Homo sapiens: one gene and its partner. The protein of the gene in region 1 interacts with the protein of each later gene in a biochemical or structural test. Each region holds a gene or a part of one and is shown on either strand. Other genes may lie near its edges.

The links.
Region 2: the proteins of DAZAP1 (region 1) and DAZL form a complex in vitro, tested with the Homo sapiens proteins (one study listed by BioGRID).

The regions. Positions count from the first base shown.
Region 1 is NC_000019.10:1,424,566-1,431,585, forward strand, and holds part of DAZAP1 (DAZ-associated protein 1), read left to right. Parts: intron 1-1,312; coding exon 1,313-1,395; coding exon of another isoform or gene 1,396-1,396; intron 1,397-4,276; coding exon 4,277-4,430; intron 4,431-5,401; coding exon 5,402-5,431; intron 5,432-5,656; coding exon 5,657-5,797; intron 5,798-7,020. UniProt on the Homo sapiens protein: RNA-binding protein, which may be required during spermatogenesis.
Region 2 is NC_000003.12:16,602,424-16,610,376, reverse strand, and holds the start of DAZL (deleted in azoospermia-like), read left to right. Parts: upstream 1-4,953; 5' UTR 4,954-5,171; coding exon 5,172-5,174; intron 5,175-5,586; exon of another isoform or gene 5,587-5,874; coding exon of another isoform or gene 5,875-5,937; intron 5,938-7,953. UniProt on the Homo sapiens protein: RNA-binding protein, which is essential for gametogenesis in both males and females. Plays a central role during spermatogenesis.

The DNA.
Region 1 (7,020 bases):
GGCCCCTGTCTCTTCAGCTTGAGAGGCCCCACAGTAGGCTGCTCCTTCCGGGGGCCGTTGCCTGTTCCCACCCCCCACGGCCCTTCTCTGCCGCGCTCGTTCACGCCTCACGCCCGTGCTGCGCTGTCCCCTGCTGTGTGGTGCCTTGTCACGCACCCTGTGCCTCTGGCGCGGGCAGCCCATCTTCAGCCCGGTCTCAGCTCTTCCCATGTCCATCTTTGTTCTGTGAGGTCTTGGGCAGCTGTCTGCCGGGCACTTCCATCTGGGGAGGGGCTGGTGCCGCCTGGGCCCCGCCTCGGGAGGACGGTGTGCTTTGCGGTGTCACGCTCCACCTAGCCGGGGAGGCCTGGAGAGCCCGGCGCACTCCTGCGCCTAGAGGAGGAGACCCGCCCCGTTAGCCGGGGGCCGCGCCCACCCCAGACCCACTAAACTTCGTTTATACTGCCACTCTTGTGTTTGGGAAATGCTAAATTTTTTTTGCCTTTAAAATTTTCTGTTTTGATCCCATGGTGCATCTCGCTCTTGCTGCTGGCAGCAGAGTCTGACCTGCTGGAACCCGTTGTGGCCTGTATCTTTGTGCATTGTTTCTCTACCTGTATAGAACATGCATAGATGTCTACGATATGACCTCTTCTAGGACTCCTTGGGCTTACCCAACGGTGTTGCGTAAGCCTAGCGAGGCACCAGCTATGATAGATACTGTATCTGTTAACGCTTTAGAACGATATATGGCTGCTGTCAGCACTAGCTGCAAAGCAAATTGCAAGCCAAGGGGGAGAATCCTGGGTTTCAGAGAAGCATACACACATCCACGGTGCACACCCCTGACTAAGATGGCGCATTCCACGCGGGCCCCCGGCCTGCAGGGTTCACTGGCAATCTCCCCACAGGCGAGAGCCAGAATATTCAAGCACGGGCCTCTGACCCTCCCCTGGGGGGCGCTTTGTCTGCCAGTAGCGATGGAGGCCCTCACCGTTCCCCTGTCTCCGCTGCTGTTTTATAAGATGTGCTCCTTGTTCCAAATCTTTGTGACACGGAGCCCCAGCCCGGGGTGTCTGGGGCGGAGGCTTGACTCAGGCCTCAGTCAGCAGAGCCGTCACCGGGAGTGCGGACGTCACCGTCTGTCCACTCCGTGTGCAGTCGAGTGGTGGCTCCTGGGGAGGGAGGCAGCTGCCCCAGGGGCCCGCAGCGCCCCACACACAGCTTAGCTGAAACCCAAGGTCGATCCCTCGGCCCGTCCCTAATACTGTTCATCATCCTGTTTTGTGTCACAACACCCTGCTACCTTGATTCACTCTTCGTCGTTGGCTAGGTTTTGGATTTATTACTTTCGAGGACGAACAATCAGTGGACCAGGCTGTCAACATGCATTTTCACGACATCATGGGCAAAAAAGTGTGTAGTTGTAGTTTTATTTTACCTTAAGACCAAACCAAGTCTTAGGCAACTTAGGGGTTTCACTGGAAAGGAACATTCCTTCACGGAAAGGGTCGGGCGAGTTCGTCCTGTGAACCTTTGCTGCGTGAGGTGGGCCTGGGTCTGTAGACGTGAGGAGGGTCCCATCCTTCCCCAGCACCCTTCCTGCGGGGTGGGGATCTCTCAGCTTTGCTCCTGGAGCCCCTCCCTCTGGGTGACCTGGGACTGGGCGGGTAGGGGGCTGGGGCTGGGAGGCTGTGGCGGTGTTGGGGCTGGCTCCAGTGAAACCGCAGCGTTGCCTCAGGCTTGGTTTCCACGACCACTCCTTCAGATGTCTGCAAATCCCCATTGTCTGACACTGACCTGTAATGTGATCAGCAAGGGACCTTTGAGAGCCGAGGTTCCGCTTAAAATGGAAAGCACAGTGGAAACATCATGAAGGACTGGTTGTTTGAATTGGGTCACTTACTGTGGAACTCCGGCACCAGCCACATGCTCTCGGTAGTACTCAGCCACCATGCAGTCAAGTGACCTCTGGTTGTGTCATCTTCATACTGTGTTACCCCCGGAGGTGAGAGGGACAGGAGGCCACCCCCCCAACCCCCAGGCCAGCCCTTGGAAGGCATGTGTCAGAAAGGGGTCCCTAAATCCTTGTTTTACCTGGACCCTTGGAGGTTCTTGAGAAGTGGACTCTGAAATAAATAACTGGTAGAAATTCTACAGTGTGGAATTTCTTGCAGTTAGCAAAAGCTTAGGGGTCCAGGTTTTTGCAGGATTCCTGTCTTGGTCCTTTCAAACCAAGGAGCTCTGCTGGCTCTGCCAGGCCGCCTCACATGCCCAGTGGGATTCTGACCCGGCCTCCTTGGTGCGGCAGCTTCTCCCGTTAACGGAAGAAGACGCTTAGCCCCTCTGACAGGGCCATGGTTGTTTTTTCAATTAAAATGTCCTGGAGGGAGCATCGTGCTCATTATCTCCTGCCCCTGCCCTCTACCCCAGCCAGAGGTCTTGATAGCAGAACTTTTTTAAAAACAGTAGCATGTGTAGTTATTTTTGTATACACGTGGCTTAGATTGGGTTGCAGACTTCATTAATTCCATTTGAACCCAACTAAAACAGGAGACACAATCCTTGTTCTGACATCGAGTGCAGCTTGTGGTTTAAAATGAGCCTGCCGGCTGCATGGGTGCGCGACAGTACAAGCAGGGCTTCAAGGAGTCTGCGCCCAGTGTTTTAAGGGACTACGACACTGACAATTTGGGGAAAGCGTGGTCTTGATATACGGGGCAGAAAGAGCTCTGTACAGTGCACACACCTGCTGCCGTCCCTGGGCAGCCCCTGGGTCCCCCCAGCCATGACTGTTCTGCGCGAGCTCCTGAGCTGGGCGACCTCAGTGTGGGTCTCGCCTTCCAAGCCAGACAGTCGTTGGAGTCCAGCTTGCCCGGCGCCGGCCTTCACTGGTTGGCTGGAGCGGCACTTGGCGTCGCCGCCGGCCCCTCATGGGGGTTTTCCGTTTGTGGAGTGTTTGGTACCGCGTGGTAGTTAACCCTCCATGCCAGGCGACTGCATTGCTGCATTCAGGTAGGAAAGGGTGAAAGAATTTTTTTTTGTTTTTGTTTTTTTAAAGTACAAGGACCGCTCTGCTTTGTAAGCAGGAACCGCAGTCCCCTGAGGAGGGTGTGTGAAGACTCGCTCATTTGAGTTCTTTGAAATGGGTCCCTTGGTCCTGCTGTCACATTGCCTTGAGCTAACGGATCCTGTTCCCATCATAGGCCGGTCCTTGGGGCATTGGGCAGGTGGGGGCTTTGTGCCTCTGTGGCTGCTGCTGTCTGTTCTCTAACAGGCAGAACTGAGGGATTCTGAACTCAGGATGTGCAGCTCTCCAGACTGAGACCCCAAGGCTGACTCCAGGTGGATCCATTGTCTCTTTATTCTCATTACGATTTATCAGAAAAGTGAGACAAATTCAGGATTCTCAAATGCTGAGGCAGCCCCGGAATTGGGGGGATCTTTCTGTTGTTAGTCCACCCATATTTTCAAGCAGGCATTAAAGGAAGGTCAGCCACTGCGCCTAGAATAAGTAGGTCAGGCCTGCTCCATCCATTGTCCCCGGCCCCGCACCCTCCTCCTGAGAAGACTGTGGCTCCTGACACGTCTAGAGAGGAAGGGCCCCGGGCTGCTGAGCGAACACAGTATGAAGATTGCTTACTGATCCAAATGTCCATTTTATTGCATGTTTGTTACTTTTTTTGTTAGATGTAATGTAAGATTCTCTTATCACATCCATTCCCTCTGACATTAGTTTTGAGTTAATTGAGATTCTTTAAGCGTTAGCCTGGGGAAGGTAAGTCTTTATCTTCCATTAGACATTTTAAATTTAAAAATCTAAGTAAAACACCAGCCGTGTTTCTCAGGTATGAGTTAAAAGCACAGGTGGGCGGGCTCCAAGCAGTCCAGAGGGCGATGAGGATGCCGATTGCTGGGAAGATCCTGGTCCCTTTTTGTCCCCATGTTTTCAAGAGGAAGGAGGACGCTGCCATTTTACTTGAGTGAAAGACCCTTCGTCACGCACGAAACCCCCGAGGGCTCTGGGCTCGGTCCTGCTGCCCCGCAGTGGGCGGGCTCTGTGTGTCTTACGGTTGCATCTGTTGTACCTGAGAAACATTTTTTAAACAAAAAAATTCAACACAAAAGAATTTTTTAAGAAAAAAATGCTACTGGCCTAAATAAGGTTTATAGTTAAGTATTTAGTCTTAAGTTGTAAGATGCTAAGTGTAGTCATAAGTTACCCGAGGGTGTGTCTAAAGGGAAGGGGGTGCTGGGACCCGCAGCCTCGCCCTAAACCAGAGCTCGGTTTGTTTAGGTGGAAGTTAAACGAGCTGAGCCTCGGGACAGCAAGAGCCAAGCGCCGGGACAGCCAGGTGCCAGCCAGTGGGGGAGCCGGGTTGTGCCCAACGCTGCCAATGGCTGGGCAGGCCAGCCCCCGCCCACGTGGCAGCAAGGATATGGCCCGCAAGGTAAGGCTGATGCAGAGGTGCCCACGGGAATGTCCCCCTTCTCGGACTTGGCCCGCGCGCCCTGGGCTGTGCCGTCGCTGCGGCCTCCCCACCTCTGCTGTGCATGCACAGAGCCGCGGTTCACAGTGTCCTTGAGCCCCCGCGAGGTGCCGGCTGACAGCCAGCTCCCGGGCAGCACCCGCAGCCTCCTCAGTAGCGGGGTGGCCACGGCTTAGGTGCCCGTCCGGGGCCTGGGACTCATTGTCACCGGGAAGAGCTGCAGTGAGCGTCTGCACCTCGCGACCGTGTGCCACGGCAGGTCTGAGCACGAAACCCTGAGAGGGCTGGCATTGCCAAGCTGAGCTCAGAATCGGGGTGCTGCCCCTGGGGGGCTTGAGGAGCCGGCAGGCTTTGGATCCTTGCCACCTGCCGTTCCCTCTGCAGTGCCGTGGGCCCTCTGTAGTTAGGCCCACGTTGTGGGCCGTCCTTGGAGCTTCCAGCAGCCACGGAACCCCTGGGCTTGGCTGCAGCCCGACCCGAGTTGTGGGTCAGGGTTCCAGATGTACGTCGTCCGGGTCCCGAGACTGTGGCTTCCCTGCACCTCGTCTAAAACCTTTTTCTCTGGAGCCTCCCTTGTTGGAAACTCGGAGGTGCTGTGGGGACTGTCCCTGCCCTCTCGAGGCTTAGAAGTCTCAGGTTTCTCTGGGGTCCTCAGGTGGAGCCGGGAGGTCACCCGTGCCCCAGTCAGCAGACACAGTGCCCGCCACCTGGCAGGGCACAGAGGAGAGTGGCTTTAAGGCCTGTTCTACAAGGGGTGGGGAGTGCTTCTCTGCTCAGGGTTCAGAGGGCTCTGCCCTCAGGACGAACAGGCTCTAAGCACAGGAGGCTCCGGGGTTGGTCCCAGCCCTTGACGTCCATGCTCTGCGGCTCCTTCTCTGCGTCGGACAGCTGGTGGACACGGCGCCAACCTCCTCTTCTGTTCTCTTATCTAGGAATGTGGGTGCCGGCAGGACAGGCGATTGGTAAGTCCTTGTTTATAGAGCAAAGGCGGGGACAGAAGCCACATGGCAGGCTGACTCGCCAGGTGTCCTGGGGCAGCCGGCAAAGCCTGGTTCCCGTGTCCTGAGTGCTGGAGAGGAAGAGAGGGTGAGGGGCCTGCTAGGGCCCCTGGCAGGCCTGGGTCTAACTGTGGCCAGTCTGTGTTGTCCAGCGCTCTCTGTCCATCACCCCCGTACTGTGTGTTTCAGGTGGCTATGGACCGCCCCCTGCAGGAAGAGGAGCCCCCCCGCCACCCCCACCGTTCACCTCCTACATCGTGTCCACCCCTCCTGGAGGCTTTCCCCCTCCCCAGGGCTTCCCTCAGGGCTACGGTGCCCCGCCACAGTTCAGTAAGTCTAGGGGGCCTTGTGGGAGGGCCTCCCGCCTGCTCCGGAGATGCCAGGTGGTGGGCGGGGTGATGGGGAGTCTTGTGTTACACGTCTGGCCTCAGCCACAGGTGGGGTGCCGGCTGGTCAGCAGGTCACCTGCCACCAGGCCCTTCACCTGCAGATGGGCTCCATCGCCTGTGGCCTCGCTGGTTAGGCTAAAGGGCAGCCCGGGCTCCTGCGGGTTGGAGAGCTCATAGCAGGAATGTCTGGGCCCAACCAGTTCTCACAGGCTCCTCAGGAGACAGAGCCTGGACTTCGTGTCTTAGCCTCATACTTCAGGATTAGGGGGGCATTTGTTTAAGGGTGTACAAGCTCTAATTGTTTTTTTTTTTTTTTTGAGATGGAGTTTCACTCTGTAGCCCAGGCTGGAGTGCAGTGGCGCAATCGCGGCTCACTGCAAGCTCCGCCTCCTGGGTTCACACCATTCTCCTGCCTCAGTCTCCCGAGTAGCTGGGACTACAGGCGCTCGCCACCACGCCCGGCTAATTTTTTTGTATTTTTAGTAGAGACGGGGTTTCACCATGTTAGCCAGGGTGGTCTCGATCTCCTGACCTTGTGATCCGCCTGCCTCGGCCTCCCAAAGTGCTGGGATTACAGGCGTGAGTGACTGCGCCCAGCCTCACAGGCTCTAATTCTTGACTAATTTTCCTGTACACGTCACTTGTAATTGAAAAGCTGAGTGTAAGATCAGCCGACACACCCAGAGTTTTATTTTATTTTATTTATTTATTTATGGTTTTTTTTTGAGATGGAGTCTCACTCTGTCGCCCAGGCTAGAGTGCAGTGGCGCCATCTCGGCTTACTGCAAGCTCCACCTCCTGGGTTCACGCCATTCTCCTACCTCAGTCTCCTGAGTAGCTGGGACTACAGGCGCCCACCACCACGCCTGGCTAATTTTTTTGTATTTTTAGTAGAGACAGGGTTTCACCGTGTTAGGCAGGATGGTCTCGATCTCCTGACCTCGTGATTCGCCCGCCTCGGCCTCCCAAAGCGCTGGGATTAGAAGCGTGAGCCACCGCGCCCGGACTATTTTATTTATTTTTTTGAGATGGAGTTTCACTTTTGTTGCCCAGGATTGAGTGCAGTGCCCCGATCTTGGCTCACTACAACCTCTGCCTCCTGGGTTCAAGCGACTCTCCTGCCTCAGTGTCCTGAGTAGCTGGGATTACAGGCGTCTGCCACCA
Region 2 (7,953 bases), on another chromosome or scaffold:
TGTTAACCTTCTTTTTAAAAGCAGTTTGGCTGACCTCACTCATCACCTAATGTAGTCCAGAAGCTTTGTTGTAAGCAATAGTCACAGAAGTTTTGGCTGGTTTAAGCAGGAAAAGAACTTATTAAAATTTATTGGGTAACTAGCTCACAGAATCTCAAAATGAACCAAAGGGTCAGGTTGTCTCCAGGAATGACACACGAAATCATGCTGCAGAACTTGTCCAGTGAAGAAACCTCAGCTGGCACTGAGTACACCATGGTTTGCACAACTGACAGTAGCAGTCATTGCAGCTCTAACCTATACCATGGCTGCTGCTGCTGTTGATACTCTTCTCCAGAAAGTATTCTCTGCAGTCCCTTCATTATGGCATCATTAGTCCCCTATTCAAAATTTAGGATGGCTGCATCTCATTGATGTTGTGTAGGTCACCTGCCCAAGCTGTTAGCTGCAAGAAAGGCTGAGAAAGTAGACTCTTAATTTGTAAGGTGAAGGATTCTCAAATCCAGGGAGGTAAGTTGTTTATGACAAGTGCTCTCTATGGCAATGTTTCTTCACCTTCAGTGTGCACATGAGCCATTTGGAGATCTTGTTAAAATGCAGATTCTGATTCAGTAGGTTTAGGGTGGGGCCTGAGATTCTACAGCACTCACGTGATGTGAAGCTGCTGATCTGAGGATCACACTTTGAGTAGCAAGGCTCTATAGCACCGATTTTCAAATATGGCTGCATACTGGAGTAACTAGAGAAACATTTATATATATATATATATATATATATATACACACACACACACACACACACTGACTTATGAGCCTTGCCCTCAGCTGATTTAATTGGTTTGGGGCGAGGCATGGGCATATAAATTTTTTAAAGTTCCCCACATGATTCTAATGTACTCAGATACCTTTCACTGCAGGCTCCAACTTTTTGTCACTTTGCAAGGTTATTTTTTATTTTTTTGAGACAGAGTCTCACTGTGTCACCCAGGCTGGAATGCAGTGGGGTGATCTTGGCTCACTACAACCTCCACCTCCCACGCTCAAATGATCCTCCCACCTCAGCCTCCTGAGAAGCAGGGACCACAGGTGCACACTGCCACACCCAGCTAATTTTTTGTATTTTTGGTAGAGACGGGGTTTCACCACATTGCCCAGACTGGTCTCAAACTCCTGAACTCAAGTGATCCATCGGCCTCAGCCTCCCAAAGTGTGGGGATTACAAGCATGAGCTAACATGCTGACCTGCAAGGTTACTTCTTTTCTCCAGCTTCTAGGACCTCCAATTTCCCTGTCTTGCTTGGTTTCTCCCCTTGTAATATGATTACTCTCATTTATTAGGCAGAACAATTTGAAACTCTACTCTTTAGTCCCTTGGGCCTAAGTTTGCATATCTAAAGCTCTATAGAGTTCTGCTAATCCAGTGTTTCCCAAAACTATGTTACTCGCTGCCCTGGGAGTATGTGGTATGAAGTGATGCATAAACAAACATTGTTTTAAATTCTAATCATTCTGTATTTATTTTAATGTCATTGTTAAAAAAATGTAGCTAAAACAGTAAGTCTGATCTTGCAAATATTGTTGTTTAGGACAAGAAGTTAATTTTTAAAACAGGTAAATAATAATAGAGACTCAGGACAGATATAACAAAAATCTTGAAAATGATTTGCAGAAGTGAAGTTCAAGTGCCTATACAAACATAGCCTTCTTTCCAAAGCCGTAGGCTTTAGGAGCACAGAAGAACTGGCAGAGGTGTTCAAAGACACCAGCGTTTTTTTCTTCTCCCCCCATATAGGAAGCAATATAGAGATTTATTTCTGAACTGATACGAATTATGCCACTAATCTTAACACATTGAAATGGATACAGTCAGTTTTGATCTTAGATAAAATTCTTTCTATTAAGCGATTTCAAGAAAACAGCACCAACCTTTGAAAAATTCATGATCTAAAGAAAAGTAAATTATAAGAATAACTTATGAAATATAAAATACAAATAATGTTTAATCCCTTAACCAGCTAATCTTTAACAAGAAAACGGGTGAAACTGTTCAGAATTATTAAGAGCTAATACACAAATCCAGAAAGTCTTAAAACTCCTAAGCAGGAGAAATTTTTTAAAACTCCACATCTACTTACATCATTGTGAAAATTCAGAACACCAAAGAAAAATTGGTCTTAAACATCAAAAAGACTGACAGCAGATTTCTCAGTAGCAATAGAAAATAGAAGATAACAGAGTAATATGCTCAATATTCTGAGGGGGGAAAAAATACTTGTAAACCTAAAATTATATATTCAGTAGAATTATCATGAAACAGCAGGGAAAAATCAAAATATTTCAGGTGGAAAAAAACGCAAGGGTTTACCACATCACACTCTCATTCAAGGAAATTCTAAAGAATTTGCTACAGGCACAAGGAAAATGATTCAGAAGGAAGATCTGAGATATGCAAAGAAATGGTAAGCAAAATGTTGTTACATATGTGGGTGTGTCTAAAAAACGACGTCTAATTTATATGATGAAACCAGGATAGAACTAAAATAGTGAATAACTTATAAACTGAGAGAGGGGAGGGTGTGTAGAGCTAAGACATCCTAAAGGCCTTTGCATTATTCAAGAAGAAAGTAAAGCTATTTATTAGCTTTATATTTTAAGTTTACATTTTAAAATAGTAATACAAATCACTTAAAAATACGGAGTGCATTGGCTCACGCCTGTAATCCCGGCACTTTGGGTGGCTGAGGCGGGCGGATCACGAGGTCAGGAGATTGAGACCATCCTAGCTAACACGGTGAAACCCCATCTCTACTAAAAATACAAAAACAAAATTAGCCGGGCTTGGTGGCAGGCGCCTATAGTCCCAGCTACTCGGGAGACTGAGGCAGGAGAATGGCATGAACCCAGGAGGCGGGGCTTGCAGTGAGCCGAGATTGCGCCACTGCACTCCAGCCTGGGCAACAGAGCGAGACTCTGTCTCAAAATATATATATATATATAATTAATATAATATAATTAATATAATATAATTAATAATTAATATAATATAATTAATAATTAATAATTAATATAATACATATACACACACATAGAGAGAGAGAGAGAGAGAGCCAGAGCGTGAGCATTACTCCAAATAAGTTGAGGAAAAAAACTGAGAAAAAGAAAAAAAAACCACGTATACACAATGCAAAAGAAGCTGCTTCTGTTAGTTTTTGACATTTTAACTTTCTTTTTCGTATGCCATTCTTATTCAAGGTAAGTAGTATTGTATAATTTTTTATTGTGAGCTTTTCATTAAAGGGTCATTTTCTTATGAGAATCACTTTCAGCCTAGGTTGCAGAAGCATTCATTCAAGTCGGTTTTATGTTTGCTTCTGCCAGGCATTCTAGATGCCCCATGTCTAGGATCTCTTAAGGCAGGAGAGAGGGTGATGGTGTAGGAGGATCCATTTCTTGGCTTGGGGATTCCAATAATATATTATAGATTTAAACTCCAAACGTTGATGAAATGCAGGTCTAGGGTTTTGAAATTTAATCAGAGTTAAATACATATTTTCTTCATCCAGAGATGGGACAAGCCTCCTCATCTGCTCGCCATGGGTGTTTCACATTTTCCCTACTCCATCCTTTTCCTAAGGATTTTAGGGACAATGGCGTTTTGCAGAGTACTCAGTTCCAGCTCCCACCCTGAGCCCTTACCTCCTACCACTAAACATCCAGATCTCAAGTTACAGAGAGTAACAACACTTTGCCCACACCTAGGATGACCAATCCTTCTGGTTTCCTTAGGGACGTAGGAATTTCTCAGTGCTAAAATCATGTAAGTCCTGGGCAAACTAGTATGACTGGCTGCCCTACAGCCCAGCCCCCATATCCCGGGCAGGAGAAGAATCAGTTGAATAAGTCATTGCTCTGGTTTTCAGTTTATTTTTGGTACTTGGAATTTCCCTTCTTTTCTTATGGGTTTAGCTGCATATTGAAAATAAAACGTTTTATTTTAATCCCGCATTACTAGGTGTTAGTAATGAGATACTGCTCACGTTATAGAAGTCCACCGTTTTGCCAGCTCAAAAAGTAACATTTTAATGCTTTCCGTCAGTACAGAAGTGAAGTTTGTGGATAAAGGTCATAGCTACTTAGCCCTGTGTGTATAGCTAAGGTGCTGCAGTGGTTCCCGAAGTTACGTGATGGGCTCCACCAACTGGCCCACAGCTTGCTCCTGCTCTACGCCCGTATTCTGACCTTAAGAATGTTCTAGAATTCTCTAGGCAGGCCTAGCGCCTTCCTGTAAGGCCTGGAAGGTGAATTCTCCCATTAAAATGTAAGATCCCTGAGCAAACACATGTTCTGTTATTCTGTTCACTCCTGCATCTGCTGTACCTGGTAATCACAGGCACTCAGTAACTATTTCTTGAAAGAACAAACATCCTGAATGTCAAACTGGCATTTCCTCCCATCCAACCCCTTCTATCTCAAACTTGACAGAAAGGAGTGCAAGTTTCTGGCCTGTTGATGTCTCCTTCTGTTTTCCACAGACTTGCTTCGATTTATTTCTGTAGGCATTTAAAAAAGATTTTGGGGTGAGTGTGAAGCTAAAAGTGATGGCGCTAACCCTGTGCCTTAGAGAAGCCATTTGGAAACTGCAGCCTAGACACATTAGATTATCATTTTTGTAAACTATACCATACATTTCAGTATGCATACTTATTTTAGGGGTGTTTTGGGGGTGATGTGTGTGTCTGTGGGTCTATGTGAGCGCGGCGCCTTCCTGGGACTGAGGCACCGGACCTGCGCACACGCGCTGCGTACCCTACGCCCCCGCCGCGTGGGCGCCGTCGTCCCCCGCAGCCCCCCCACGCAGGGGGCGGGGCGCTGCCACCCATTGGCTGAGGCCGATACCACGCGCCCCGATACCCGGCGCAGGAGCCACCTCCCTGAGCCCCGCGGACCACGCCTCAGTCCGCCTGCGCTCCTCAGCCTGACGGTCCGCCTTTCGGGGCTCCTCAGCCTTGTCACCCGCTCTTGGTTTTCCTTTTCTCTTCATCTTTGGCTCCTTTGACCACTCGAAGCCGCGCAGCGGGTTCCAGCGGACCTCACAGCAGCCCCAGAAGTGGTGCGCCAAGCACAGCCTCTGCTCCTCCTGGAGCCGGTCGGGAACTGCTGCCTGCCGCCATCATGGTGAGTTGAGGGAGAGGCCCGAGGGGCAAGGCTGGCGGAGTCTTCACTCGTGGGTGAAACTCGGCTCTGCAGGGTCGGAAAGTGAAGTCATCCTCGGCTTTCCTGTTTGGGGGGCACCTGCCTGGACGCACCACAGCCATGGCCCACAGAGTTGGGAGAGGCGGCCTGGCAGTGGCGCGGCCTACACAGAGAGGCAGGCGCGGGACGCCAAGGGCGGCAAGGTGGGGGTGGGCCCCGAGGACGCGCTGCCTCGCCGGCCACGTGCAAGGGCCACGGCCTTCTTGAGGCACCCATTTCCCGGTTCGGGTTCTCTACTGGCAGAGGTTTGGGGTGCGGGTTCCCCACCCCCGACTGCCCCACCCCGCCCCCACTCCCACGCGCTCCCCCACTCACGCGCCTCCGCCCCTCCCCCACTCCCACGCGCCTCCGCCCCGCCAGCCTCATTTCTGGCGCGCTCTCCCCGTGGCTCCGCAAGATGGCGGCGGGCCTGCTGAGGGACTTGCCTTCTTAAACTTCGAGGGCCGGAGCTTCCTTAGGAAGTGGTTCCCTCCTGGTCCCTGTACTTGGTGGGGTGGGCGGGGTTCGTGGGGGCCTCAGCGTGGGGTGTGGGGCGTCCTGAAGGCATGGCCCTGTAGCTGAGGGGGCTGGGCCGGAAGTGCCTCTGGTCCCCTCGCGCCTGTCAGCTGCGGGGGACTTGCTGATGGCGGCTCCCTCGTGTGGCGGCGACAGAAAAGCTCGCCTGACGCCATCTTTGCCGCACGAGGTTGGTTTCAGCAGTTACCATTAAGAATTTTAGAATTTTTAAATTCTGGGTACGGTTTTTTCCCTCTCGATAAACCAGGATCCTTTGACAAAATGTCCATTTGGTAGATAGCGTTGGGTGTGCGTTTTTGTGAGTTTGGTAAATGCCTAGCGTTGCTTCAGCGCCACCACAAGATGCAGCTCTGAACACGCAGACCAACCACTGAGTCACGAACGCGCGTATTACATGCTGTGTGTGTGTCTGCATTGATAATTCTCAGTCTCTTCAGGGAGGAAATTTATACACAGTTTATATTACCATGTATAAACATTAAAATAAAAATAAACACCTATTATGTGTAATTGTGCAACATATAGTTATCCATGCTAATAAAAAGTAATCACCTTGAGTTGTAAGTAATTATTTATTATAACACTTTTCATTTTTAGAGTTAAATCCGAATTGTTTCATTGGATTATTTTTCTGATTATAAAAGTATCATATTTACTCATTTGAAAACAATCGCTGTAAGAAAATAGCAATCCATCTTAATCCCAACACTTATAACCGTTAAATTTTGGTACATGTATGACCTTCTAGATTATTTTTATGCATGTATTGCATATAGATGGGCCAACTTTTACAAGAGTTACACCGTGCTGCATAATACTATTTTACAACTTGCATCTTTCAATTGATGTGGGCATTGTTCTGAAGATAATTTTAATTTTCAGTATATGTTAAAAATTATACCATTATTTTACCGAATTCGCTTATGATGAATACTTTTTCAATATTAAAACAATACTATCATGGGCTGGGCGCGGTGGCTCACGCCTGTAATCAATCTCTTTAGGAGGCTGAGGCGGGTGGATCACTTGAGGTCAGGAGTTCGAGACCAGCCTGGCTAATACGGCGAAACCCCATCGCTACTAAAAACAGAAAAATTTGCCAGGCGTGGTGGTGCGCACTTGTAATCCCAGCTACTCGGGAGGCTGAGGCAGGAGAATCACTTGAACCTGTGAGGCAGGTTGCAGTGAGCTGAGATCATGCCACTGCACTCCAGCCTAGGCAACAAAGAGGGGAGGCTCAGTCTCAAAAAAAAAAAAATGCTATGAATATCCTTGTGTAAATATCTTGGCATGCTTGTATTATTAATTCCTTGAGATGAATTGCTGTAAGTGGAATTGCTGGGTGAAAGCGCTTTACCCCTTTGGTAACAATTTTAAGTTACACCCCTCATTAGTATAGTGATGAGTATCCTCGCCTATCAAATTATGATACATCTTTTCCAAGCTACTCTTGGTGTAAAGAATGTATCAGTATTTTCCCACTGATGGTGTGTAGAGTGATCTCTTTTCCACACCCTTTCCAATGAAAGGTATTAGGATTTTTTGAATTGTCAACCTAATAGCTGGAAAATATTTTACTATGTTGATGTGCACTTTTAAAAATCATCAATGAAGTTGATCGATCATTAGCTTTTTAAACTTCCTTTTTATTTTTATTTGTATTGATTCATAAAGACTGTATTAATGTTCACCTTTGTCATACATAGTGGAAAAAAATACATAGTAGTAATAAGGAGGTGCCCTTACCTTATTCCTAATTTCAATGGAGATGACTCTAGTATTTCACTTTAAGCTTAATGATAGGGTAGAATTAGATTGATAGAAAATAAGATGTCTCTATTTCTGTTTTACTTGGATATTTAGATAATTTAAAAATGAATGCTGTATTTTGTCAAATGCTTTTTCAGTGGTGAGTTAAAGTAACAATATCCTGTGAAGTATTCTTGCATTTCCAATATAAACTATATTCTTTATATACTGCTGGAATTTTGCATTTGTGTTGAGGGCAGGGATGGCTCATCTTGATGAGGCTTTGTTACTTATATGCTGTTAGCTTTGTAAAATGCGTTGAGAAATACTTTTTTCCTCTTTGAAAATTGAAGAAAAGTGTTTGAATTTTTTAATCTCCTCTTCTGTGTTTTCTGTCTTTATTTCTGGTGTCTGATGTGTATGTGCACCTCTCTCT